Linked DNA regions of Homo sapiens: all the other regions are reported to be linked to region 1. Evidence: microRNA targets listed by miRTarBase, many of them from high-throughput screens and not tested one by one. Region 1 holds a microRNA gene; each other region holds the end of a gene's coding sequence.
What was found. The annotated mature microRNA hsa-miR-4493 reads AGAAGGCCUUUCCAUCUCUGU and lies in region 1 at 3,744-3,764, opposite strand. An mRNA with a match to its seed (bases 2 to 7 or 8) in the 3' UTR can be bound and repressed. Matches are read on the target gene's strand: a 7mer-m8 pairs with bases 2 to 8, a 7mer-A1 pairs with bases 2 to 7 and ends in A, and an 8mer does both.

Region 2: the mRNA of SRP19 is a reported target of hsa-miR-4493. Seed matches in the 3' UTR shown: 7mer-m8 at 4,803-4,809.
Region 3: miRTarBase lists TMEM127 as a target of hsa-miR-4493. Seed matches in the 3' UTR shown: 7mer-m8 at 4,873-4,879 and 7mer-m8 at 3,823-3,829.
Region 4: the mRNA of DNAAF2 is a reported target of hsa-miR-4493. The part of its 3' UTR that is shown has no 7-base or 8-base seed match.

Annotation. Positions count from the first base shown.
Region 1 is chr11:123,377,698-123,384,935 of GRCh38, forward strand. It overlaps MIR4493 (microRNA 4493), which reads right to left and starts at 3,815; the gene lies at 3,743-3,815. It also overlaps a transcript of GRAMD1B not described here. RefSeq lists enhancers at 4,401-4,480, 4,641-4,720.
Region 2 is chr5:112,866,505-112,873,504 of GRCh38, reverse strand. It overlaps SRP19 (signal recognition particle 19), which reads right to left. Exons shown (of 5, transcript NM_003135.3): 5 at 3,717-6,101. The coding sequence ends at 5,968. Among named protein-coding and RNA genes, the nearest start is that of SRP19, 8.7 kb to the right of the region's middle.
Region 3 is chr2:96,247,959-96,254,958 of GRCh38, forward strand. TMEM127 (transmembrane protein 127) reads right to left here. Exons shown (of 4, transcript NM_017849.4): 3 at 6,875-7,000; 4 at 556-6,157. The coding sequence ends at 5,850. Among named protein-coding and RNA genes, the nearest start is that of TMEM127, 15 kb to the right of the region's middle.
Region 4 is chr14:49,619,484-49,626,694 of GRCh38, reverse strand. It overlaps DNAAF2 (dynein axonemal assembly factor 2), which reads left to right. Exons shown (of 3, transcript NM_018139.3): 3 at 647-1,521. The coding sequence ends at 1,153. It overlaps RPL36AL (ribosomal protein L36a like), which reads left to right and starts at 6,069. Exons shown (of 2, transcript NM_001001.5): 1 at 6,069-6,133. It overlaps MGAT2 (alpha-1,6-mannosyl-glycoprotein 2-beta-N-acetylglucosaminyltransferase), which reads right to left and starts at 5,896. Exons shown (of 1, transcript NM_002408.4): 1 at 3,214-5,896. The coding sequence starts at 5,426. The coding sequence ends at 4,083. RefSeq lists silencers at 5,405-5,514, 5,815-6,024 and enhancers at 5,246-5,796, 6,185-6,294.

The DNA of each region.
Region 1 (7,238 bases):
AACATTCAGAAGAGCTGGAAGATAATATACACTTAGAAGGTCCAGTGGCTCTCCATTTGTTATTCTTCCAATGGAAGACCCTGAACTAGGAACTTGAGGAGAAAGATTAGCCATCTAAAGAAAAGACTTGCAAAAGATCTCAAACTCAAATGAAATGGATCGCCTTCCACCACCATGCGCTTCCAGCTGAAAAGTGGTCATGTGTGTGTATGGCAGTGGCTCTGCCACCTTCTATGTGGCTCCTTTGTGTTTTAGACTGAGTATGGAAAGGTGCTCAGCACACTCTGTCCTTTTTTCCCTGTTAGCATAGGTATATTTCTGTGTCCACAGGTACAAAGCCAAGGACCTATGTGTTCTAGTGGTCAGAACACTGGACTTGGTAATGGTTATCAAAGCTACTGTTTATTAAGCGTTTTCTCTGCACCAGGGAGGTAGTCGAAGGTGCTATCTTACTTCTGAAGATGCTGAGGCTTGAAGACATTGATTAACTTACCAAGACCGTGGAATTAGTAAGAGGAAGACCTGCATTGGCACCCAGGTTGATCTGACTTCAAAGCCTGCATTTTTTTTACTGCCTATGGCAATCTGTCTCCCAGAAACCAGAACAACTAGTTTAAATTCCCAGCTCTGCTACTCCCTAGCTGAATATTTCATGACTCTGGCCCTCAGTCTGTCAAATGGAAGGGTTGTGCTAGGTGTTTTCTAACATTCCTACTAGTTCTGAAGTCCAGTGCACTGTCTAAGGCTTTTATCAAATATATGATTTGCAAAACTTCTCTCCAATTCATCAGGTTGTCTTTTGCTTAGTTTTAAGCAGGACTTTCATGAGTATAATCTCAAGCAGTCTGGAATGTATGGGGAAATGGTAGGAGAAATTCTTTGATTACTATTTATTGAGTGCCTCCCCAAGGATATAGCAGAGACCAAAACTGTCATGGTTCGGCCTTTGAAAAACCAATGAAGCAGGGAAAACAGCCACTGAATATGTTACAAGGGTTGAGTGTTATGCAGAAAGATTACAGCATATGTAGGCCCTTCTGAGGGTAATTCATGTGAATCTGGTTCAGCCAGTTCAGTGAACATCTGCATGTATCCCAGACCAAGCAAGCAACAGTATTTATTTTATTTTCATTAATTTTTAAATTATTTTTCTGCTTAGAGTCTTCTCATGCACAAGAGCAATAGGATTTAACATCTAAATGTAACAGGTGTGACAGGCCACCTGTGTTCAGTCTTCTCTTGTTATTCTTTTCTTTTTTGAGGCTTCTTACATACCCCAGTTTTGATGGGAGTTGGCAGGGCATGTGGAGTTGTACAGTGTCAGTCTAAAGAGGAACAAGGGAAGATGGAGATAAGGAAGAAGTTAAAGTTAAATCAGGGGTTAAAGTTAGAGGGATGGAATGAGGTAAAAATAATGAGTTATACCTTAGGAATGTCTCCCAAATTCTCGCTTACTGCAGCAGGAAGCATAGGTTAGAAGGGAGAGAAGAAAAGAACCACAGATTCACAGTCTCTCTGATTTGAACGGGACCCAATAAGACATGTGGTCCAACCTCATCTAATTATTCAAATGGCATCTGCAACATCCCAGGAAGACTTTCAGTTTGAATGCTTTCGTTGACGGATGATGCCTACCTGACAAGGCAGGCCATTGGATTGTAGGGCAAGCTCAGGCTGTGAAGAGAGACACTGCTTTTTGTTGAGATATCTTAAAAAAAAAACAAACTTCTATCTTCTAGCTTTAATTCTGGCCTTCTGTGTTCTTTCACTTAATGTTTACAAAGTTCATCCATGTTTTAGCATTTATCATCACTTCATTCCTGTTTATTACCGAATAATATTTCATTGTATGGTTAATATCACATTTTATTTATCCAACCATCGGCTCATAGATATTTGGGTTGTTTTTACTTTTCAGCTATTATGAGTAATGCTCCTGTGAATATTAGTGCACACATTTTTGTGTGGACATGTTTTCATTTCTCTGGGATATACACCTGGAAGTGAAATTACTGGGTCATATAGTAACTGTATGTTAAACACTTTGAGTGACCGCCAGACTATTTTCCAAAGGACTGCACTATTTTACATTCAGTGTAAGTATATTGCATATATATGCGGGTTCTAACTTCTCCATCTCCTCGTCAGCACTTGTTATCATCTGTCTTTTATGTTATAACCATCCTAGTGGCCATGAAGTGCTATCTATTGTGGTTTTGATTTGTATTTCCCTGATGGCTCATGACGTTCAGTATTTTTAAATGTACTTATCGACCATTTGTATCTATTCTTTTGAGAAATGTTTATTTAGGTCCTTTCTCCAGCTTTAAAAAAATTATTTTGTTATTGAGTTATAGTTCTTTATATATTCTAGACACAAGTCTCTTGTCAAATATATGATTTGCAAAACTTTTCTCCAATTCATCAGGTTGTCTTTTCATTTATTGATGGTATCCTTTGAAACACGAAACCTTCTAATTTCGATGACGTCCAGTTCACTCACCCTTTATTGCTTGTCCTTTTGGTGTCATAGCTAAGAAACCACTGCCTAATCCAAGGTTACAAAGATTTATGCCAATGCTTCTGAGAGTTTTATAGTTTTAGCTCTTACATTTAGGTCTTTGATCCTCATGGTCTATTTTTAAAAAGCAAGTTGTATGACATTTAAAACTCAGATACTCAGTCCTCATTAAAACTTCATCTGAAATCAAGATTAGAGGAAAAAGAGTTTAGCAGAGTCCTTCCTTGCAAGTGACCCAAAAGGTTGCAGTTTTATAAGACAAAAATAGACTAGACATCTCCAGAGACTTTATTATGACTTTTATTAGGACTTTATTATGACTTTCATTAAGGCTTGGGTTTCGAGGTGTTCAAACCTGCAAATATGGGTGATAGACGGATGGACCCTTTGTAGTTGGCGTTAGGTGATAAAGAGAATAGGAGGCTGCTGCCCACCGCCGTTTCAACACGGCCAGCAGCTCTGCTCTCTGCCTCCTGTCCTGTGTCCTTCCTCCTTTGGATCTCTTGGCCTGAGATCCTTTCAGATGGTGATTTTTGGTCCCCTTTTGTCCACGTAGTTGCTTACACATGCTAGTGCACCCCCACAGCCTCATGTCTGCCTGTCCACCCCATCTCCCTCCTCATTCTGGGACTGGAGACAGTTTGGTTTTTTTATGTATCAGGATAATGACCACCTCTTTTTCTTCCCATATGAGCTCCCACTCCCTTCTTCTCTACGTACCTTCCTTGGAGCTAATTCACACATACCTCAGGGTGCTTCTTATTTTTCATGTTTTTTTTCTCTTCCTATAGATAGAACTCATAAGGTTTCCATGGAAACCCCTGATCAGAGGTAGGGGATTCTTGAATAGAGGTGAGATACACAAGCTTTGCTCATTTCTGAGGGGCTCTGGGAGTGTCTCCCTCACTCCTCCGCCAACTCCCTCTCCAACTCTTCCTGGGTCAGCTCTTGGGTCTGTCTCTATAAGATGCTTCAGGAGCCCCCAGAACTTTGTCTTAGGATAGAACAGATGGTGGTGACGATGGCCCTGAGAGTCCGGGCTCTAGGAAGAGGCTGCTGCTGGGTGGGTTGTTTGGCATCTGCAGAAAACCTGAAATCTGGTGTGTTTCCCAGGAAAAGGGAAGTGCTTAATGGCAATCCAATTCTCCCTATTGCGTCATGAGACAAGTCCTGGTTAGGAGAGCTGGGTCCCAAATTACCAGCATTGTCTTCCTCTTATTAGACAGAGATGGAAAGGCCTTCTGGAGGTAAAGGCATGGCTGTGATAATCACCGGAAGGCCTTCCCATCTCTGGTTGAGATTCTTGTATGCCCGGTCTTTATATGAATGGCAGGTCTTAGGCATGCATATAAGCAAATTAACATGCTGGAACTGGAAGGGATTCAGAGTCGAGGTTCTAATATATAGGTTGAAGGTTCCTGGAGGACTGCAGAGTTACAGCAAAGGCTCTAAGAGGCCATGTGTGCACTGAATGCTGCCTGGGGAACAAATACATCAACGTGGTCACCATCTCTTGGAACTATGCTATTTTTTTAAATGATAAAAATTAATCCCATACTTGAAAAAATTGCAAACTACTGATTTGTTGTAGACCTATTACCTTGCAAATGAAGTAAACAGGGGCTCAGACAGCAAGAGTGAGGTGGCGACTAGCCTGAAGTCAGCCAGCTAGGACCGGAGGCTTGGGGTGGGGTAAGTGTTAGTGGCAGCACCTACTGCTCTGTTTACCCACACTGTGGAAAGTGCTATACTGGGAAAAGGAGGCCTCCTCTGACCAGCAAGTGCCTACTCCTGCAGCTCAGAGCCTGAGAAAGAAACTACACATTAAAAGTGAAACTGAGGTGGTTTCATCTTCCCAGAATAAATGAATGATATCAGTAGAAAAGCTAGGGGATTTTTCTGGGGATTGGGGGGAAGGGAGTTCAAGGAAGCAGCAGTTCTGAGGATACTGATTTCATTCATTATCTTTTTGAAAAATAAATTAATATTTTAAATTAGGTTCCTAATCACAGAGTGTGAATCATAACAGAAGGATTGGGTGGCCTCCCTTTCAAGACCAGCGCTGGGAAGAGCTTTGAACCTGAGCCTAACTGTGGATTTAGATCTGGTGCACTTCTCCCCACTTCTGTACCTAGGCCAGTCAAATCCAGAACTTGTTTTTTTTAGGGGATTTCAGAGGAGTTGAGAACACGAAGGTCCATAATTAAGCATCATTGATTTTTAAATTATTTTGGCTCTGAGGTTTAAACTGGCATTGAACTCTCAGGTTCAGTTTAGAACTCTCTTATATTGTGAAAACTGCCTCAGTGTTTCCATTCTGAAGACCTTGCAGTTGCTTGATTTGCATATAGGAGTGTGATATTTAAGTGTGTGGGAAAGTGGATGAATGTGGGTGACTATGTTATGCGTTTGTGAAAAAGCATCCAGGAATATAGGTGATCATGTGGCTTGTCAGGACTTGGCAGGATGCAGATGGCACACTCGGATAGGGTAATGGGGGGCGTTTAAGAAAGGGACTCTCTTTAAAGGTGTGGGTAAAGTTAAGGGATATCAGCAAAGGATAAATGGAGCAAAGGATAAATGAGGCAAGAGAGGTCACCTGACCTGAGCTGTGGCCTTGGGTGCAGAGATGCAGTCAATCCACAGGAAAGTAGCAAGGGAGAAGCTGAGGGACAAGCCCCTGTCCCAATTCTCCTCTTGCCCTCCTGTATCCAGCCAGTGCCTCCCTTGGCAGGACCCAACCAGAAGCCAGAAGGCAAGAGAACTGGTTACACTTCTCAGAAGGGCCAGCCTCCTGGGTCACAGAGCAAGATGGGGCTGTGGGGCTGTGTAGCAAGATGGGGGGATCTACTCTACACATGCAGAGTGGATCCAGAGTTGAATGTGTAATGGTAGGTCGGGTAAAATCTTACTGTGAGAACACTCAGGCATTAACTGGGGCTGACCTGGACTTGAATTTAAAGAGTGCTTCCTACTTCAGAGTCTTGCTCTCTCTCTCTCTCTCTCTCTCTCTCTCTCATTTCACCTATTCTGCTTCTTTCTCCCTGTGGTAGGGAAGAACCTAGTTTCCAATGTGTGGCATCTTGATTAAATGGAAAGTACATGGGCTATGGAGCTAAATCATATTAGCTTGAAATTTTAGCTCAGCCACTTACTGAATGTGAGCCTTGGGCTAGTTACTAACCTTGCAAGTTCCAGTTTCCTCATCTGTAAAATGTTGGTAATGTTAAACTCCTTGCAAGGTTGATATAAGAATTAAAGACTATGTATCTTTATCTGTGTCAGTATCTTCATCTCCCAGTATAGTGGTTCATTCATGTTAAGTGTTCAATAAATACTGGCTATTTTTCTCATATCCACCACCTGGGCTGTCGGTCACACCTACTCATTTTCTCTTATACTTTGCTTCACGAATTCCTTCTTCTTTCCTACATCATTAATCTTTTGCTCTCTAGTGGGTCTTTCGTTTTTATTTCTTAAATACACATCTCCCTGATGTTAACAAAGAAACCTCTCTCCCAACCTAAATTCTTCTCTAGCTTCTATATTTTGGCTATTGTTCCCTTCATGAATATATATATATATATATGAATATATATTTCTTTCTATTTGTCCATTAATGCATCTATCCATCCATCTTTATTTTTATTTTTATTTATTCATTTCTTTTGAGATGGAGTCTTGCTCTGTTGCCCAGGCTGGAGTGCAGTGACGCGATCTCAGCTCACTGCAACCTCCACCTCCTGGGTTCAGGTGATTCTCTTGCCTTAGCCTCCTGAATAGTTGGGATTACAGGCATGCACCACCACGCCCAGCTAATTTTTGTGTTTTTAGTAGAGATGGGGTTTACCATGTTGGCCAGGGTGGTCTTGAACTCCTGACCTCAAGTGATCCACCTGCCTTGGCCTCCCAAAGTGCTGAGATTACAGGCATGAGACACTGTGCCTGGCCCATCCATTCATCTTTAAAAATCAGCATACATGTATTGCCCTAAGTGTCTTACCACCTTTTGACTTCTCAACCCCCTGCAGATTTGTTTGTTTTCTACCATTGTGCCAAAAATGATCTCAGCAGTCTCTAATTAATTTCCCAAATGCCAAATCCAGTGGCCTATTTCTAGACCTCATCCTGCTTCACAGCATTTGACATTCCCAATTATGTCTTTCTTCTTGAAATACACTTCCTCCTTGGTCTTTGTGCTGCTGTATTTTCTTGGTTCTCAGTGTTCCTGCCCAGGTAACCCCCTTCCCCTAAACCCTCTAGTCACTTATGTTTTCTTTCTTGCACACAAGTGTAGATGTTGCTAGTAATTGATTATTTATTTGACTGTTTCTTCCTGTTGCTCCTCCTGTAACATTCAGGAGAGCAGGGGTTTTATCTGTTCTGTTTATTGTTTTATTCTCACTACTGAACCCAGTGTCCCAGTGCTTGATATAAAGTGTTAGCAAATACTACTTGAATGAAGAATAGATTTAAAATTTATTCCTCCAAGGTAACTCTCTTAGCCTGCTTCTCAACTATATCCTCCCCACATAGACATCTGTGACCTCTTTCTTTGGACTCTAGATCATGGGTCAGAAAACTTTTTCTTAAAGGACCTGATAGTCCATATATTTAGCTTGCAGGTCATATGGTCTCCATCACAACTACTCAGCTCTGCCACTGTAAAGCAAAAGAAACTATAAATAAAATATCAATTAATAGGTGTGGCTGTGTT
Region 2 (7,000 bases), not on the chromosome of region 1:
CTTGATGCCGCATGCCTGTAATCCCAGCTACTCGGGAGGCTGAGGCAGGAGAATCGCTTGAACCCAGGAGGCAGAGGTTGCGGTGAGCCGAGATCGGGCCACTGCACTCCAGTCTGGGTGACGGTGTGAAACACCATCTAAAAAAAAAAAAAAAAAAAAGAATAGGAAAGGTTGGAAAATAAAGCTGAGCAAATCTAAATAAAGGCAAAAAAGAAAAAAAAAAAAAAAAAAAAGAAAACCTGAGGATCAGACCAGCAGGTCTAATAGTCAAATAAAAGAGTACCAAGAAAGGTCAGAAAGAGGAGAAAAATTATCAATGAAATTTTCAAAAAACTTTCCCAGAGCTGAAAACACAAATTCCCAGACTGAAAACCCACTTAGCTGCCCAGCACGATGGGCAAAAAAAAAAAAAAAAAGACCCACACAAAGCACACAACTGTTATATTTCAGAATACTGGAACCAGGATCATGATAATAAACTAGAATGGCTACAACTTCCCTTCAGCTACAAGAGGTCAGAAGACCAAAAAGCAATTCCCTTGAATTCCTTAAACAAAATGACTTCCAAAGGTAATTCTATATCCAGCCAAACAATGTAAGGGTAGAATGATGAAATTTTCAAATATGCAAGGTCTAAGAACATTTACCTCTCTTGCACTTTTCTGGGGAAGATCCTGAGAACAAGATATACAAAACAAAGCAGTAACATAAAAAAGAGGAATACACGGGATACACAACAGATATCCCCAAAACAGCAAAGCAGTGGCTTGAGTCACTCCAGACAATGGTGAGAACCCAGAGTGAAGTTGTGCACTAGGTCTAAAGGGTAAGAGATCAGAGCCAGGCAAAGGACTACAGAAAAGATTTTAAAATGATGAGGCCGGGCACAATGGCTCACACCTAATCCCAGCACTTTGGGAGGCCAAGGTGTGCGGATCACTTGAGGCCAGGAGTTGGAGACCAGCCTGGCCAACACAGCGAAACCCCATCTCTACTAAAAATACAAAAATTAGCTAGGCATGGTAACACATGGCTGTAATCCCAGCCACTGGGGAGGCTGAGGCAGAAGAATCCCTTGAACCCGGGAGGCAGAGGTTGCAGTGGGCTGAGATTGTGCCACTGCACTCCAGCCTGGGCAACAAGAATAAGACTCTGTCTCAAAAAAAAAAAAAAAAAAAAAAAGAATCATTTGGGGATCTCATTAAACACATCTGAATTCTGGGCTGGGGCCAGAGATACTGCATTTTTCACAATCTTTCACCAGAGGCCAGTGCTGCTGGTCCTTCAACCATACTTTTAGTAGCAAATGTACTACACGGCTGAGCTGTGAACAGAATGTATAATGTAAACTCTGAATAGTGGTTAAATTATGAAATATATTGGTAGGCTAGGAAGATAGGAAATATGCAAGCATATGGTAGAGAAGAAAAACTAAATCCTCTTCTTCTACAAATGGAAGTTAATGCCTAAAACAGAAACACACTATTAAAACTAGCTGGCTTTTAAAATTATATATAATTCTGATAACAGATTCCTTAAGAAGTGAGTAGAGGATGCGAACTCAGTTCATAAATACGAAAAGCACTTCAACATCTACATAAATACTCAACTGTCTCATTAAGATTCCCTTTTTCAGCTAGGTGTGGTGCCATGTACCTCTAGTCCCAACCACTTGAGAGAATTGCTTGAGCCCAGGAGTATAAGAACAGCCTGAGTGAGATCTCATCTCTTAAAAAAATTTTTTTTGAGACGGAGTTTCACTCTGTCACCCAGGCTGGAGTGCAGTGGCACAATTTTGGCTCACTGCAACCTCCATTTCCCACGGTTCAAGTGATTCTCCTGCCTCAGCCTCCCGAGTAGCTGGGATTACAGGCGCCCACCACCACGCCTGGCTAGTTTTTGTTATTTTTAGTAGAGATAGGGTTTCACCATGTTGGCCAGGCTGGTCTCGAACTCCTGACTGCAAGTCATCTGCCCGCCTCAGCCTCCCAAAGTGCTGAGATTACAGGCATGAGCCACACCACACCTGGCCTCTAAAAAAAAATTTTTTTAATTACAAACTTTTATACTCAGGAGGCTGAGATGGGAGGATCACTTGAGGCTGGGAGGTTGAGGCTGCACTGAGCCGTGATTGTGCCACTGCACTTTAGCCTGGGTGAAAAAGAGAGACCTGTCTCAAAAAAACATTTTTTGGCCTGTTTTAAAAAGATTACAGTTTTCACTTAACAACTGGCAAAAAAAAAAAAAAAAAAAAAAAAAAATTCACTGATTGCACCAATTGCAATAATGTGAAGAAACAGCAATATATTGTTACAGCAATAGTTCTGAAATCTTAGTGTTTTATGTTGTTGCAACAGAACACCACAGACTGGGTATCTTAAAAAACGAATAGAAATTGGCTGGGCGTGGTGTATCATGAGGTCAGGAGTTCAAGACCAGCCTGGCCAACATGGTGAAACCCCATCTTTACTAAAAACTACATAAATTAGCTGGGTACAGTGGCAGGCACTTGTAATCCCAGCTACTCGGGAGGCTGAGGCAGGAGAATCACTTGAAACCAGGCGGCAGATATTGCAGTGAGCTGAGATCGCACCGCTGCACACCAGCCTGGGCAATGTGTATTTGGCTCATGATTAGGAGCTGGGAAATCCAAAAGCATGGCACCTGTATATGGCAAGGGTCTTTGATGCTGTGTGATCCCATGGTGGAAGGTGAGAGGACAAAGAGGGTGCGCTGAGGAGAGCAAAAGAAAAATTTGGCTGAACTCCATTTTATAACAAACCCACTCCTCAGATAGTAACATTAATCCATTCCTGAGGGCACAGCCCCCATGGCCCAATCACCTCCCAAAGGTTCCACCTCTCAATAACATCACAATGGCAATTAAATTTCAACATGCATTTTGGAGGGGACATCCAAAATATGGCACTGACAATCCTTATTGCCCCAAAAGTAAACCATTTCCAGATTTCAACCATCTTTCTGTGACAAATCTTTTCAGTTGGCTACCACAGTACGTTTTTTTTTTTGAGACAGGGTCCAGCTCTGCTGAGGTGAGTGGAATAGCATGATCACGGCTCACTGCAGCCTCACCTCCAGGGCTCAAGCAGTCCTCCCACCTCAGCCTCCCAAGTAGCTAAGACTATAGGCATGTGCCACCATGCCCAGCTAATTCTTTTTTTTGTAGAGACAGTCTCACTATGTTGCCCAGGTTGGTCCCGACTTCCTGGACTTCAGTGATCCTCCTGCCTCAGCCTCCCAATGTGCCGCGATTATAGGTGTGAGCCACTGTACCTGACCCAGTATGCATTCTCAACTACTTTCTTCCTTAGCTGCCTTGGCTGTCAGGACTGAAAAAGCTATGCAGTCATCCCTCATCTGTGGTTTCACTTCTGTGGTTTCAGTTACCTTGGTCCCAAAACAGGTGAGTATAGCACAATATTTTGAGAGAGACTGACAATTTCCACATACATTTTATTATAGTATATTATTATAATTGTTCTATTTTATTGTTAATCTGTTACTGTGTCCAATTTATAAACTTTATCATAGGTATGTATTAATCCATTCTCACACTGCTATGAAGAAATATCCAAAACTGATTAATTATAAAGGAAACAGGTTTAACTGACTCACAGTTCCGCATTGCTGGGAAGGCCTCAGGAAACTTACAATCATGGCAGAAGGCAAGGAGAAGCAGGCACCTTCACAGGGCAGCAAGATGGAGTGACTGCAAGCAGGGGAAACGCCAGGCACTTATAAAACCAACAGATCTCCTGAGAGTCACTCATTATCTCAAGAACAGCACAGGGGAAATTGCCCCCATGATCCAATTATCTCCACCTGGTCCCACCCTTAACACATAGGGATTTGGGGATTATAATTCAAGATGAGATTTTGGGTTGGGTAGCAGCCAAACCATATCAAGTATATATACATAGGCAAAAACATAGTATATATAGGGTTCAGTACTATCTGCTGTTTCAGGGATCCACTCTTGGAATGTATTCCCCAAGGATAAGGAGGACTGCTGTGTTCACTTTCTCAGCCTCCTTTGCAGCTAGAGATGGACCTGTCACAGTTCTCAACAATGAAACTAAGTGAAAGCCTGCTGGGAGGAATTTTGAGAAATCTCATGCCTATGGTCTCAGCTACTTGGGAGGCTAAGGTGGGAGAACTGCTTGCCAGAAGTGGCTGGCACAGCTACCTTTTCTTCCTGCCTTGCACTCATGTAAATATCAGCCCTTTTACAAGCAGGAACAATAATCATAAAGGTGTTAGAAATATGTCATGGACAGCAGAGCGGAAAAATACAAAAAAGGCATCACTGAGAGCTAAACCAACCACCACAGCAACCTCACTTGGATTTAACATATGAGGCAAAAATATCCTGCTTAAATCCTTCATTGTTTTGTTACACAGCAAACACATCCCCTTATTGTTTTGTTACACAGCCAAACACACCCACTTTCTCAAAGAAGGCTGCTCTGAATTATGTTTTACACATACTCCCCTCTCCCCAGGATTTATTTGTAAGTCAAATATATAAACTAAGTCTTATACTATTATGTTCACTATAAAACAGAAATTGTTAGAGTTAAAAAAAAAAAGTCAACAGGCCAGCTAGCTCATGCCTGTAATCCCAGCACTTTGGGAGGTTGAGGCAGGAGGATCACTTGAGCCTGGGAGTTTAAGACCCTGTCTCAATTCAAATAAATAAATACATATAAATCTCCACAACTCTAGGTTTGCTTATTTTACAATCAATAGGAATGTTTGACTGTGAGCAATAAAAATGTAAAGAAGGCCGGGCACGGTGGCTCATGCCTGTAATCCCAGCACTTTGGGAGGCTGAGGTGGGCAGATCACCTGAGGTCGGGAGTTCGAGACCAGCCTGACCAACATGGAAAAACCCTGTCTCTACTAAAAATACAAAATTAGCCGGGTGTGGTGGCACATGCCTGTAATCCCAGCTCCTAGGGAGGCTGAGGCAGGAGAATCTCTTGAACCTGGGATGCAGAGGTTGTGGTACGCCGATATCGTGCCATTGCACTCCAGCCTAGGCAACAAGAGTGAAACTCCATCTCAAAAACAAACAAACAAACAAACTTAAAAAAAATGGAATTTACTGAAAATATGAGATAGCTTGCAGAATTCAAGGAAGAGCTAAACCAGGCCTCAGGAAGAACAGGAATTGGGATAGCTCAAAATCACTACTTTCAGAAACCGCTCTGAAATTCTGGAGCACCAATCCAATTTCATTTGTTGAAGGAAAGTGTACCTCAAGGTGCTAAAGCACAGTTAATTTTACAACTCCCATGAAAATCATGTTCTTAAACCTACAAAATAAGCAAATTTAAAGCTTAAAATCCAGGACTTTCCATGTCAAAAAACAACTGAACGATTCGATTACAATAATATATTAAAATATCATCTACAGACTGGCTTTTTACAGACTCCCCTGTCCCCCACCCACAAAAGGACCTACCACAGTTTCTTCTAGTTTTAGCCTCACACTATGGAAACTTTCACTACATATTTTATTCTTAATTATCCCTCCTCTCCTAGCATTAGTATATAAGCAAAAGCTGCAAAAGTCAGTTTCAAATTTTATTTCATTAACTTAAAAGGTGGACAAAATGTTTATTTTAAATCTAATTGAAATTTATCTGAAACAACTTATTTCAAGTAACTTATTGTACAGTCCATTGTCCATTTAAAAATATTTTCTTCCAAAAAACTGCATTGAAAGACAAAAAAATTCTTTTATACGGCATATACGCGAGATGCAAACTTCTGATGTAAATTTGTTTCACTGTCAACTCCGATGATAAAGATGAGAGGCACAAGGGTTCACAGTTCAGTTAAATGATGCAAACAAAAAGCTTCTGTTTCCCTCCGATACAAATTAGAAGTCTCCATTCATGTCTCTTACAGTAGTACCACATACTTGATGCTGATACTAGGTTACTTCTTTTTCTTTCCTTTCCCTTTTTTACTTCCCTCTCCTTGTTGAAGACTTTGGTCAGCACCTCCTGTTTTTTGTGTCCTTGTTTTTAGTTTAGGTATCATTTCTGCTGCATACAACATTACTGACTTACCTAGGAACCAGAAGTTAGGCTTAGTGTATAATCTGAGAAATAAGACATAAAAAGTCATCAAATTGAATATCACAAAGTGTAAGAAACTATCACATCAAGAAAATGGAAAATAACTTTTTTAAAAAATCAAAAATCAAATGACTGAAGACACTGACTAGCTCAAGTCGGGGGAAATGTACTGAGAGTGAGAATAATGCTGAAAATATTTAAATGAATAAAATCAAAAGGCAAAACACTAAGTATGAAACAAAAATTTTGGTTTGGTCCTAGTAATCAGCTTGAAGATCTAAGGAGTATGTATCCAAATATACCTCAGGTAGAAACAGAGTCAGAATATCACTGTATCTTAAGACACTGAAATACAGGGTTTTCTCAGTCTTACAACAAAAAAACAGTATCATCAAGTTACAAGCGATCCGATGGGTAAGATCAGATGATCTACACTTACATGCATTCCTGCTCTGCACACCTACAACCAGCTACCTTCACCCCCAACAGACCAAGTTCCTCAGCTCTGCTTTCTTTTTACTATCTTACTTGGGTCTTACTGGAAATAGGAAGTGACATGTTCTCACCACAACTTCTACCCCTATTTTATCTACTAGTTAATTACAAGTTTTTGTTTGTTTTTGGTCTTTTGAGATATAATATAGGAAAATGTTAAGGAGAAAAAACATATCAGAATATGATGTCACTCCTTAGTCACAACCTGAAGCATCTAGCAATACCTACCAATCCTGATGGGTTTTAGTATATAAAAAACAATCTATTTTAGGCTGAGCCCAGTGGGTCATGTCTGTAATCTCAGCTCTTTGGGAGGCTGAGGCAGGAGGATCACTTGTGTCCACGAGTTTGAGACTGGCTTAGGAAACATAGCAAAACCCCATCTCTAGAAAAAA
Region 3 (7,000 bases), not on the chromosome of region 1:
CTGGGAGGTTGAGGCTGCAGTGAGCCATGATTGCAGCACTACACTCCAGCCTCCAGACAGAGCAAGATCCTGTCAAAGAAAAGAAAGAAAAAAGAAAAGAAAAGGAAGGAAGGGAGGGAAAGAAAGGAAAGAAAGAGAAAGAGAAAGAAAAAGAGAAAAAAAGGAAAGAAATTGCATGTGTGTACATGCAAGCAAATTTCCCATACCCCGTTAGAATATGAGGAAGCAAACAGATGGAAAGAATCAATAACGGGGCAGGGCGCAGTGGCTCACCCCTGTAACCCCAGCACTTTGGGAGGCCAAGACGGGCGGATCACCTGAGGTCAGGAGTTTGAGACCAGCCTGGCCAACATGGCAAAACCCCATCTCTACTAAAAATATAAAAATTAGCTAGGCATGGTGGTGCATGCCTGTAATCCTAACTACTTGGGAGGCTGAGGTTGGAGAATTGTTTGAATCGGGGAGGTGGAGGTTGCAGTGAGCCGAGATCTTGCCACTGCACTCCAGCCTGAGCAACAAAGTGAGACTCCGTCTCAAAAAATAAATAAGAAAAAATGAATGAGACATTCTTCTTTTATTAAAATAAAACCCATCCACCACCCCAAGGTTATTCCAGAAGGAAACTCTCCACCAATAGTGGTGGCACTAGACATATACTGAGAGACCCCCAAGAGGGAAGTGAAGCCATGGGGGCATCTGGGGCTACATGGTCTATCTCGCTACACAAGGAGGCCCTTTACAAGGCTAGCTGCCATTTTCTACCAAGACAGAAGGACAGGAACCTTCCAAACAGGGCAGCCTGCAGGCCCTGCACCTTCAGGCCCCATTCTCAGACACCTGTACAACCCCTTAAGCCAGACGGACTCACAGCTGTCTCTGGAAAGTTCTTCGTTACCTGACTCTTTAGACACAGGGTTGGCTGGAGGGGCCTCTCCCTCATCTTGTACATCTTATGAAGCCCCTTACCACCCACTGTGTTGCTGTCCCACTCAGCTGAAGGGGCTGGCCAGTCCCGCATAAACCCTCCAGCTCTGAGATCAGCCAATCTTCCCTGGGCACTGCTCTCTCCCCCAGCAAAAAAGCCAAGAATTTTCCCCAAAGCTTATGGTGAGGAACCTGTGTGTGTGTGTGTGGTGTGTGTGTGTGTGTGTGTGTGTGTTTGAGATGGAGTCTCACTCTGTCAGGCTGGAGTCCAGTGGCATGATCTCGGCTCACTGCAACCTCTGCCTCCCGGGTTCAAGTGATTCTCCTGCCTCAGCCTCCCGAGTAGCTGGGACTACAGGCACCTGCCACCATGCCTGGTTAATTTTTGTATTTTTAGTAGAGACGGGGTTTCACCATGTTGGCCAGAATGGTCTCGATCTCCTGACCTTGTGATCCACCCACCTCGGCCTCCCAAAGTGCTGGGATAATAGGCGTGAGCCACCGCACCCGGCCAGAACTGATCTTAATTCTCAAACCAGTAACCCTAATGAAGCGTCTTCGTTTCAGGTGGGCTCATTCAAAACGACATTTTCAGGCTTGGTGCAGTGGCTCAAGCCTGTAATCCCAACCCTTTGGGAAGGGAGGCAGAAGGATTGCCTGAAGCCAGTAGTTTGAGACCAGCCTGGGCAACATGGTGAGACTGTCTCTACCCACCCCCACAAAAAAAACATTTTCTCTTCTCCACAAACCTCCTGCCTCCCATTAAAATGTCACTCCCCCCAAAAAATGCAGAGGAAGAGGTAAGATTGCAGGCTATTTGAAAACAGGGGCATGAAGTTTGTCAGTTCCCTTCTGTCTCCCCATAGCATCTGTGTTCCATTAGTGTAGTGGCTGAGAGCGTGGATATTTCAGGCAAGATGCCAGCTGAAGATTCTCTAGTCATCTTGGGAAAGCCGCCCTGCCCCAGATGCACCACCTCTTCCTGTGTCCCAGGGTCCTCTCCTTGCGGCCCTTCACATCCCATGGCTTCTCGTGTGCGGGCCCCTCTTCGCCTGTGCAGTTGATGCCACCTTCCAGCTGCCACGTGACAGGTGGGCAGAGACTGGGGCTCCCGCATTCCCAACTCCAGCACCTGGCTGAGACACTGGGCCCTGGGATTGACTGTGACCGCCCTCTTCCCCTTTGGCAGGTCCTGTCTCCCACTTTCAACACCCTCACTTAAGGCCAGGCAGAACCCTTCCTACTGTCACCAGTCATTAAAATAAGGTTGCATCCCTCCCTTCCCTTCTGAAAATCCTTCCTGGGCTCCTTCTGCTGTTAGTGCCTTAAATGAGCACCCCTCACCTTTCTAACCTCGGCTCTTACCACCTCCTGGCCACCAGTGTGCTTTTGCTCTTGCCATTCTCTCAGCAGGAGTGTCCCTATCCCAGTTCACTCCCACATCAAGTGTGGCTCAAGCTGCGTCCTCCAGGAAGCCTTTCATTATCACTCAGGTCAGAACTGGCTCCCTTCTGGGCACAGGACTTTTCCGAGCCGGCCGCCCACTTCACTCTGCCTTTCTGTGGACAAGTCCATCTCCTGAACTAAGGACATAAAATCCTTGCAGACAGGGTCCTGTCCGTCACTGTATATTTCATGGTGCCTAATGGTGCTTTGTCTGAATGGACATGAAATGAGAACACACTCCCAGCTTCCAAGAAAGATGTGTATTCTCCCTAACAACAACAAAAGAGACCTAAATGGGCTGCTCCCTGAAGAGAGCCCTCAGCTCTTTTACCGTGATGCACACTCGGGGCTGGGTGTAGGCTGTGTGATCAAATGTATGAAGGAAGAAGGAACGGAGAGAACGTGGGCAATCAAGGCCTGGCACTGCCCTACAGGAGGCTTACAGGTCACACTCCCAGAACTGTCTCTATCCCCATGCCTCTCCTAGTAAGATTCATTACCTATGGTTTCAAAGAAAGTGCAGTTTCTAGGGAGTGAAGGAACACGTGAAATACAGAAAATAAAGACAGAAAAACACACAAATTATTAAATAAAATTTAAACAATAGAGGGAAAAAAAGTGTAGTTTGTTCTGCAAGCCACAGCCCAAAGAAGTCTATTTCCTCCCACAGGATGGCTAGAGTTTAGGAGCCACGTTCTCCTCTATAGCTCACCAGAGGATGCAGCCTGAAGAGCTCAGGGTTTGAAGGTTGGGCCTTGGGCGGGAGTCAGCTACTATTTCTAGCTGTTCTAGAAAGACCTAGAAACTTCCTGTGTGAAAACAGGATTAGGAAGCTCTGGGGGTGAAAATGCCATGCACGGAGCTGGCCCATGCCAAGTCCCTTCTAACTATTTTAAATTACATCTTTGGCCAGGCACGGTGGTTCATGCCTATAATCCCAGCACTTTGGGAGGCCAAGGTGGGTGGATAACCTGAGGTTAGGAGTTCCAGACCAGCCTGGCCAACATGGTGAAACCCTGTCTCTACTAAAAATACAAAAAAATTATCTGGGCATAGTGGCGCATGCCTGTAATCCCAGCTACTCAGGAGGCTGAGGCAGGATAATCGCTTGAACCCAGGAGGCAGAGGTTGCAGTGAGCTGAGATCATGCCACGTTACACTCCAGCCCGGGTGACAGAGCGAGACTCTTGTCTCAAAAACAAGAAAAAGAAAAAAAAATACAGCCTCATCAACATCTCCTGCTTCTCTGAGACAAAGGGAACAAACCAAATCAGGAAAATCGTGACAGAAAAATGACAGGCAGCCATTGTCATTTCCATTCTTATTCGTGGTTTCTGGTTTTTTTGGTTTTGTTTTCCCTTTTAATTTTTTTCTAGAAAAAAAAACACAACCCGGGGAATTTATATGACAAACTATCAGTGTCAGGATGGCAGAGGGAAAGAGAAAGAAGAGGAAGGCCAAAGACATGGGGAGTGAATAAAAAGTGGGTTCCGGATCGTGCGGAACAGTCCACAGGGTCATTTACAGGTCCTCAGGAGATGACCAGTCCCTTTGGCATGCAGGTCCAGTGCCTGGTCTTCTGGTCTGCCTGCTCAGACACCCAAGGGCAGAGAGAGCTGGCCACAAGTAAACCTGCCAATGACAAACTCAGGACTTAACAGAAAGACTTAGTTCAGTTCCTTGGCTTTGTGCTCAGGCATCACATAGCAGGCAGCCTGCAGCCTTTCTTGCCTGAGAGAAGAGTCCAGAAGAGCAGGAGAGTCACCTTTGAACACACTCTGGCATCACAGCAGTGAACTGCAAGCAGCCACTGGCTCGTGTGCAGATGTGGCCCTCACCACCCATGCAGGCATCTGTCCGGACATCCCCAGTCAATCTGGCCAAAGGATGGGACATGACAGTCCCTTTCTAGCCACAGCTTCATAGTGTTGTCCATTCTCCAGTCTTGCTCAAACTATCTATCACCTTAAAGGTTGGAAGAGATTGGAATCCATTTCCTTTTCAGCTCAGCAGGGGACACTGATTCCCAAGAAGCAAGTAACTTAACAAGGACAGGTTGGCCATCTGGATCTACACTGAAGGTCTTTCAAGTTTCATCCACTTTATGCCCAGATCTCAGGGCAGAAAATTCAGCCAGACCCAGAGCAAACAAGGTGACCAGAGTGATGGCTGAGCAAGAAAGTCCCAGCAGCACACTGCAAGACCAGAGTACATTCAAGAGGGGAGAGGGCACGTGGCAAGCTGGAGTCCCGAGTCAGAGTCTAGGGCAGCACTGGGTCTGAAGGACACAGCCCGGCCTGCTGGGCTGACAGTGTGGGTCTGATGCCTCACATGATGTGGCCCCACTGGTTGTATTCCTATGTGGAGGGTGGTGGGTTCCTGCCCTGTTGTGGCCCCTGTTCCTAAACTGAGGCCAGGTTCCATCTCAGTGCTGCAGTCCTGAGGAGCACCACGCTGGCCCGCCAGCCAGGCCACAGTCCTCAGCCCCTCTGGGTTCCACGAGAAGGCCCCAGGGAGTCACCGTCACTGAGAGGGAAGGGGCCAGGGAAGGGAGGCTGCATTCTACTGGGAGAGACTCGGGGAGGGACTACCATGGGCTTGGAAGGAGCTACAGCCCCAAATATTGCAGAGCCAAAAGGAATGGGATACATGTCTAAAAAGTGACAACAGTCTTGTCCCTATTTTAAAAACAGAATATTGTTGCTGTTGCCTGGTTTCATTTTTTTCCTTTTAAAACCACTCATATTTAAAAGGTGAAGGGCTGGGAGATGTAGTCCCCTTCACTCTGGTCCTTGATAGGCACCAGGGGGCCTCAGTCTCACGCTGGCTCCTGCTCTCCTTGCCTGGGCTCCAGCCACATGAAGCAAGGGCAGAGAGGGTTGCAACTGCTCTGCCTTCCCAACAGCGATTCCCTCTCCCCATAAAACCAGGGCACACGTGAGGAGAAGTCCAAAGAGTAAAGTGCACAGAACTCCCCGGAGCAGGTGGCCTGGGGGCGGGTCACTCCGAGAAGGAAGGGGTCTGGGGGGCGTCAGCCCAGAGCTACAGCTGTGGAGCAAACACTGATCCCTGTGAAGTGAGCCTCCAGGGCACAGTCCCCTTTCCCTTGGGCCCTTTGACACTTGTTTTTGGGACTGTCCGCTCTCAGCAGCTCTCCAAGGAAAGTCTCGGTCCCAAAGATATCGCCCATGCTGGAGGAAACTTGGATGACCTTCCCTGGCTGGTAATGACTCGTGAATGTGAAGGGGGCAGGATGTGGCAGGAGGGAAAGAGTACATTATAGAAAACCAGTGGACCTCCGGTTCTGAGAGCAGGGATACTTGGATGACCCTAAAGGCAGAGTCTCTCCTGGGGAAGGTTTGGAGAAGATGGTCAGGATCCTACCAGTGAGGCCTGCTGGGGAAAGGAGCTCCTCTGGGTGCGAGAGGAGCTGCAGAGTTGAGGGAGGGGCTGCCGAGGAAGAGAGCCCAGGGCTGGCATTAGGGTGTGTAAGCAGGGGGTGGCTGGAACTGGTTGATGACCTCATATTCCGCCGGGTAGGGCTCGTTCTCTTCCATCTCTGAGAGCAGCTCCAGCGCCTGCTCCTCTTCCTCTGTGGGGTAGTGGCGCAGGAGGTTGGCTGCCGTGGCCAGGATTGAGGCTCCACCAGCTCCTGCCACCAGGTAGAAGCTAACGGCGAAGGTGACATAGACCTGGGATCCATGGTACTTCTTATGCTGCTGCTGCTGGGCCAAGATGAGTTCAGAAGCCCAATAAGAAAAGCCAATGACGGTGGCACACTGCAGAACTAGGAGACAGAGGGACAGCACAGAAGGGGAATTAGTGAGCACTCCACAGCTAGGATGCTTGAGGACCCAATCACAGCCTCTCTACCCAAACCCCATTCTCAGAGAACCTGCCTGGCCCCAGACTCTGCAAGGAGGAGCTCTCTTGACCATGGGATTCCTGGCCTGAGGTTGGGGACAGCAGTCTGACCTGATCTAGGCCAGTCAGATTCCATCTGTCTTAAGGAGCAAATAGGGTCATGCAGCTTGGGAGCTGGAGTAGGCACACCACAATTCAAACCAGCACAGCAGTGCAGGCACGAGGGAGGACAGCAGCTACATACAAGAAAAGGCGGGTCTGTAGGGAAGCAGGAAGGTGGAGAGGAGAGAATCTGACCAGGAGCTCCAGGGGAGACACGGGAGACTGCCTGGTTCCTTCTTCACTCATGTCAGGTCTGAGCTTCAAATGCCATTTTAGAGAGCTGTGAGCTTCCTTGTGGAATTTCTAGCAACATTTCCCCTCTACAGCTGGGCTGAGTGGGTTTGTGATCCTGGCAAGTTAGCAGCTAGACTGGAGCAGGCTGCTGACACCCTGACACTCTGGGAAAGACTGGAGCTTGGCACATGAGCTCCTGGAAGGGTGCCTGCTCAGAGAAACCAGAGCCCCCACCGGCAACTCAGACAGGATGCCCCCACCCTGTAGCAGTTCCTCTCCCACTGTGAGCAGGCTCACGGCTTACCCGTTAGGATATGGGCGAAGGCATAGCGACGAGTGATCTTCAGAGCAGGATGCTTCGGCCCAAAGACATCCAGAAGGAAAGCGGAGAGACTACACAGGATGCCCAGGAAACAGAAGGCGGCGATGA
Region 4 (7,211 bases), not on the chromosome of region 1:
CTGTGTCTACTAAAAATACAAAAATTAGCCGGGCGTGGTGGTGCATGCCTGTAATCCCCTCTACTTGGGAGGCTGAGGCAGAATTGTTTGAACCTGGAGGCAGAGGTTGTAGTCAGCTGAGATTGTGCCAGCCTGGGCGACAGAGCAAGACTCCGTCTCAAAACAAAAAAAGTCATCCTTCAAATGCTGCCTGTCTTTTTCTTTTTTTGACAGGGTCTTACCCTGTCACCCAGGCTGGAGTACAGTGGCACTATCTCGGCCCAGTGCAACCTCCACCTCCCGGGTTCAAGTGATTCTTCTGCCTCAGCCTCTCAAGTAGAGGGGATTATCAGGTGTGCTCCACCACACCCGGCTAATTTTTGTGTTTTTAGTAGAGATGGGGTTTCGCCATGTTGGCCAAGCTGGTCTCGAACTCCTGACCTCAAGTGATCTGCCTGCCTTGGCATCCCAAAGTGCTGGGATTACAGGCATGAGCCACTGTGCCCAGCCTGGAGGATGAATTTTGACAGGAAAGCCTGGATGTATACCTGCAGGTCTGTAAGGGCTATTACCTCACAACTGTTAAAAATTTTATTTCCAGAGGGTAGTACAATTTAATTTTGTATTATTTAAAATAATTATTAATTTGTTGTTTCTCTTGACACAGTTGCAAGAATGTAGTAACTCTGATCAGCTACAAGGAAAGGAGGAAAGAGTAAATGAAGAAAGTCATCTAACTGAAAAGGAATATATAGAACATTGTAACACCCCTACAACTGATTCTGATTCATCTATAGCAGTTAAAGCACTACAAATAGATAGCTTTGGTTTAGTTACATGCTTTCAACAAGAGTCTCTTGATGTTTCTCAAATGATACTTGGAAAATCTCAGCAACCTGAGTCAAAAATGCAATCTGAATTTATAAAAGAAAAAAGTGCTACTTGTTCAAATGAGGAAAAAGATAACTTAAACGAGTCAGTAATAACTGAAGAGAAAGAAACAGATGGAGATCACCTATCTTCATTACTGAACAAAACTACGGTTCACAATATACCTGGATTCGACAGCATAAAAGAAACCAATATGCAGGATGGTAGTGTGCAGGTCATTAAAGATCATGTGACCAATTGTGCATTCAGTTTTCAGAATTCTTTGCTATATGATTTGGATTAATTCTATATAATTTTGGACTTTTAAATATTAAGGTTAAAAAATACCTGTATCTAAAATTGATTCTGTTAACTGTTGTCTTAAAACTAAAGGTATTAAAGTATAAAATTAAAATTTGCAATTTTTTTTAAAAAATTGCAATTTTGATTCTCATGGGGGAAATTGGAGATAATTTTTTTTTTTTTGCCTCTGGAGTTTAAAGTTTCCTTATGGAGATAAGTTTTGTGATTCCTGTAATAGATGTGTATGTTTTCTATTTGAGAGTTAAAACATTTGAGAGTTAAAACATTTAGTTTTAATACAACCTATGTATATATACTTCTGTGTTAAATTTTGCTTTGTCATTAATAAAATTTAAAAATATTCACTAATTGTGTTTGTCACACAAAGTAATTCTCAAGAATGCATTTAACTGGAATTATAAGTACATGTGTGGGGGGTAGAATTTCAAAACTGTTTCTCAGTCTCACTAAGTAGGACATATTTAAGCTTGAAATAGAGCTTAGAGGGGAAAGAACTTTACTAACCAATATTAATCTAAACAATTACGATACAAATTCACCAGATAAAATGTAGTACTTTTCATCAGCTCTATATTTTGTCACACAAACTATATATATTTTTGTTACATAAAGTATATATAATAGATTTAGTTATTTAGTAATGATTTTCAAAATTCAATTTTGAAGTATTTCTTAGAAGTTATTGAAATATTAAAACATCTTGTGGTTTTATAGAAATTTAAGAGTAAAACTGGAATTTTTAAAATCTGGCAATTTGCTCTGATAGGAAAATTGCCTTCATTACATTATTACACAGAAAAACAAAAAAAAGCCAGTGTTTCCTAATCACTTTCTTTTTTTTTAAGAGATGGGTCTTGCTATGTTGTCCAGACTGGATTCAAACTCTTAGGCTCAAGTGATCCTCTCATCTCAGCCTCCTGCATAATCAATTTCCTTTATAACACCTAAAATGTGAGGCAAAGAGAAGATCCTAACAGGTTTTTTTCTTACAAAAAATTTTAGGGCAGCCAAAGAAAATGAAAGGAAGGAAATACAGAAAGGGAAATATTTGTTGATTTAATCACTAACCCCAAAGCCAGGAGCTGATCTATTTGTTTCAAAAACAGCTACTACTTCACACTCTGGCCTTCTTAGCTCAGTCCTGGAAATAACCTAATTTTTTAGTTCTTTGAACTAGTGATGTCAGGTCAGAGTACCAGAAATAGGTACAAAGCCTCCTGATTCACCCTTATTTATAACCCCCAGGCAAAATCTTGCACCAGACTGGGCCGTGGGTAAGTCTAAAGGTAGCTCGTAAAGCAAGAGAACTATTTGCCTCACCTTAGATAAGCATATGTGCTCTTAAACTACTATGAATCTTAAATTGATGCAATAATTTTGAGACTGCCATTTAATAGTTACAAGTTTAAGTAACTTTTTTTTTTTTTCTTTAGATGGAGCCTTGCTCTGTTGCTCAGGCTGGCGTGCAGTGGCACGCTCTAGGCTCACTGCAACCTCTGCCTCGAGACTCAAAGGATCCTCCCACCTCAGCCTCTCAAGTAGCTGGGACTACAGATGCACCACTACACCCGGCTAATTTTTTGTATTTTTAGTAGAGATGGGTTTTCGCCATGTTGCCCAGGCTGGTCTCAAACTCTTGAGTTCAAGCAATCTGCCTGCCTCAACCTCCCAGAGTGCTGGGATTACAGACATGAGCCACCACACCCAGCCCGTAATATCTTTACACAGAAATTAGTCTTTTATGAGAAATTCTCGGTTGAATGCAATTACAAATTAAGGGAAACTTCTATAAACGTCTACATTAAATATGGAGCAAAATTTAAGCCTGTTTCCTATAATTTTCTGTATCTGTCCTTTTAAAACGTATGATTTAAGTTAAAGCTGGCACTAGAAAGTATTTCACTTTGGCATGACTGAACTTTGTATCATTTCTGGCTTTCAAAAACAATTTAGGCTGTATTTCCCTTACACAGCAACTTTTTATCATTCATTTTCAATGCCTGGGTAATTTGAAAGCCAAACAGTTTCTTGCACAGGGAATGCATTGTCATAAGCTGGGTTTTATTTCAAACTCAATTATACAATGTAGCAATAGTAAATATTAAAATGTAATGCTAACTCAAAACTTGTAGAATGCCTTCACTGAATTTTGGTATAAAGAGTAAACAAAACTTATTCTGCAAAAGGATTAGGAACCTTTTTATGCAAAAATGAGTATTTTATTTTGTCAGCACTAAAAGAAAAAAAAAAACAAAACCACTGTATTTCTACATTGAGGTGAAAACAATGTTTAAACTTTCTTATCAATCAAATACATTCCAAAAGAAAGTGTGTTCTATGAAGGTTCCAAAACACACTCAAAACACAATAGTACAGGAATCTAATACTGAAAATGACTGTTCTGACAGGGTGTTTAACAAACATAACTTTTAAATTATTAAACCAGTGAAGCAATCCCTTCCTAATAAGTGTGTCAAGAGAGTGAAACTGGGTTTGTTCCATTAATACCCTAACAATTTCATCGTAATACTTTTTACTGCTATGACAGTTTTAAATAAATTTTGCTGTACTTAAAATAGGTTTTGAAAGTGGAAAAGTGTACAAAGTTTCAGATAAAAAGATTAATAAATGCAATTTAAATAAAATTTCCCCTCTTCTCTCATATCAACAATAATCAATTTTAGCAGATAACAGATTGAGCTTTAAAACCCTACTCCCAAAATGAAACCTTCAGTTTTAAATCTTAATCAGACATAACTGGAAAAGATTACTATGTATTTGGACACCTTTTACAAGATTTTGTTTTTGTATTAAAGCAGAAACCAGTTCCTAAACTCTTTTATTCAATTGTATGTCCTGTTTGGACAAATATCAAAAATAGAAGACTGTCGCTTTTGTAACTGTGATTTTCACTGCAGTCTTCTATAACTTTTACAGAGTTCATGGTCCCTAATATCTCCCCACCCTCCATTTTTTCTAGGTGGGGAAATGGCTACCACAGTAAACTTTTCACTGATAGTTAGAGTTTCTGGAAACATGTATTGTTTGTTATTATTTAAGAGTGACTCAATTTGGGCACTCTGAGTGGATGGTCTACAGGTTTTCTTGTGATGCATACCACAGTCTCCAGCATGAAAGATCCTAGGAATTTGAGGAACCAGCACTTTCCAGAATTTTGGAAGACAAGATACAGTCAAGTATTGAAGAGTCCAGTCCCAGTTATAATCATCATAAGTACAGAAAGTGTCTGTGCACTCGATCAGCTTCTGATAGGCATTCCGGGTCAAGGCTAGACCCATATTGTGCTCTGTGGATTTCCAAGTTTTCACATCTACCTTGTCAGCCATGCCATAGAAACTGCGACTGGCACTATAGGTCCCCAGGGAGAGAACATCACATTCAGGGCACTCTTGCTGCTTCAGTTTCCACATCTTTTTGAAGACATGGTAAAAGTCTGGGGCTAAGTAGTGATCCTCTTCTAGGAAAAGTATAAGGCCAGCATAATCTCGAAGAATTTTCACTCTTTCCCACACAAAATGCAGCTTCCACCACCAGTGATGTTTGGTCTGGGAGAATTTGGCCTCTCTATAATGGCCGAAGGAGTCGGGATACTCAGCATTGATGCACCCCAATTTCAAAGCGGCATTCTTCGGCAGGTCTCTGGGACAATCTCTAGGGTCACTACCTGGAAACTCGTTAGGGTACAACTGAATGCTGAAAGGAAAGAACACCTGCAGAACCGGACAGAAATTCACCCCGGCGATCAGCTGATTGATCTCGGTCGACCAGAAGTCATGGCTAAAGATGACGAGGACGTTGTCAATTCCCTGGGCTTTTCGAAGTGAGTCCAGCAGCAGTCTGAGGTATTCGGGCCGGTTATGCACCTGGACCACCAGCACCAGCTCCCGGGGGGCCCAGGTGCCAGCCTTATCTACATTCCTCAGGGTCTGATCAAAGTTCAGCTGGTACACCAGGGACCGGTACCGCAGCGTCAGGTTGTCCGCCTCGGGCTGGGGGACCGCCGGGACCAGGGAAGCCGCCGACACGTTGGAGACCCTGCGGATGCCCACAGCCACAGAGGGGTGGTCCCCACCGCGGCCGCCGGCACCCCGCGCGGGTTCGGCGTCCAGCAACGGTGGGGCGAGGGCCTCGTTCTTCCTTTGTCGCCCATTGCTGCTCCAGAGGACGAAGCCGCAGGCGGCCACCACGAGCGTCAGGATTAGCACCTTCCGTTTGTAGATGCGGAACCTCATGGTCTCCAGGGCCGGGAGCGCAGGCGGGCGGGCGCGGAAAGGAGCAGCTGCTTCTGCACGGAAGGGGCGGGCGGGCGGCGGCCGTCGCCTTGGCCTGTCACGGTCGGAACTGGCCCCCGCGGCTGCCCTCGCTAACTCATCCCGGGCCCCGGGGGTCCTGGGGCCCGAGACCTCTCATTTACCCCGCGCCGCCTGCGCTCCACACATCCTCGCCTGGCAGCTACAGCTCGAGCATCGGCGCCGCCGCTAGGAGCCGCGGCTCGGCTTCGTCTCCGTCCTCTCCATTCAGCACCACGGGTCCCGGAAAAAGCTCAGCCGCGGTCCCAACCGCACCCTAGCTTCGTTACCTGCGCCTCCAGCGGCCCTGCGTCCTCTGCGCTCTCATCCTTACAGGGGCCCTAGACGGCCAGAACTGAGCGACGCGGCCTCGCCTCACTCCGGCGGGGACCGTTATGACAACCCGCAACTGCCCCGCGGCACACCGCGGCCCTCCGGCCCACACCCCTCCGGCCCGCCCCTTAGACCGTTGGTTGGTGCTTTCCAGACGCGACCGAAGGCGCCTGACCGCCGTGGCCGGCTGCCTATTGGTTTGCAGTACTGTCGCTCAGGTGCAGTTCCCACTTCCGCCTGTTTCTTCCCTTTCCTGTTAGGCGAGAGCTGCGAAAGGCGAGAGCTGCGAAGGGCCAGGTGTCGGGCGCTGTTTCTCGGTAAGCTAAGAACGAGGCTGTAGCGGCTCCAATAGGAGCCTCCCTTGCTCAGAATCCTGGGTAGGACTAGGCCTTCTTAGGAAAGGGAAGGCGAGACCTATGGCCCTCGCCGGCCTTAGTTCGAGAGCAGGCTTCTCCCTTCAGGAAAAAGGTCTCAGGCATGGCGGCTATAGAATCGCGGGGCGCGCCGGCTTGATAAGGACACGTCAGCCCTCGAGGCTGCTGACGGGTGACTGTGCTTCGGAGGGGAAAAGTGATACTACGCTGATGTGGTTCTCGTAGAAGGAACGGGGCGGGTCGTAACCGTAGCTACAACGTCGCGCGCTGCCCCAGCCATTCTCTAGAGCTGGAAAATGGAGGAGGTGGGTGGGGGGAAGGGGGTCAAAGAAACTCTGGTCCTTAACTTCCTTTTCGGAAGAAAATTAGATGAACCGCACTTTTCTTTTGGAGCAGTCACAATAAATTAAACTCATTTCGTACGGAAAACGGACTGTATTGGGCCTCCTAAAGCTGCTGCTGTCGGTTTTCGTGAGTCTTGTTCTATATGAGAAAAGAAGAATGGCTCGGAGCATTGTTAATTATTTGAGATGTGCAAAATTTGCCGGGCCCAGAGAGACAGCAGTATGGGACTTCAGACACCTCCCCACTTAATGCCTGGCATTTTATTCCTGACTAGCTGCTTCACCCATTATGTCCGCGTTCCTGGAATTTGTCATGAAAAGAATGATGTATAGCCAATCAATCGCTTGTGTTATTTTAATGTAAATTCTTGGTAGACAATTTAGGAACTGCCATTTTTTCCTCTAAAAACCCACTTGCAACTGCTGCTACTCAGGGCATTTTGAATCTGTGCTCTGGGTTGCAATCCTCAAACTTGCCCCAAATAAACATTCTACTTATATGAATTGTGCCTCAGTTCTTTTTTTTTTTTGAGACGTAATTCCGCTGTTGTTGCCCAGGCTGGAGTGCAATGGTGCGATCTCGGCTCACGGCAACCTCCGCCCCTCCCCACCCCGCCCAAGCGATTCTCCTTACAGGTATGCACCACCACCACGCCAGGCTAATTTTGTATTTTTAG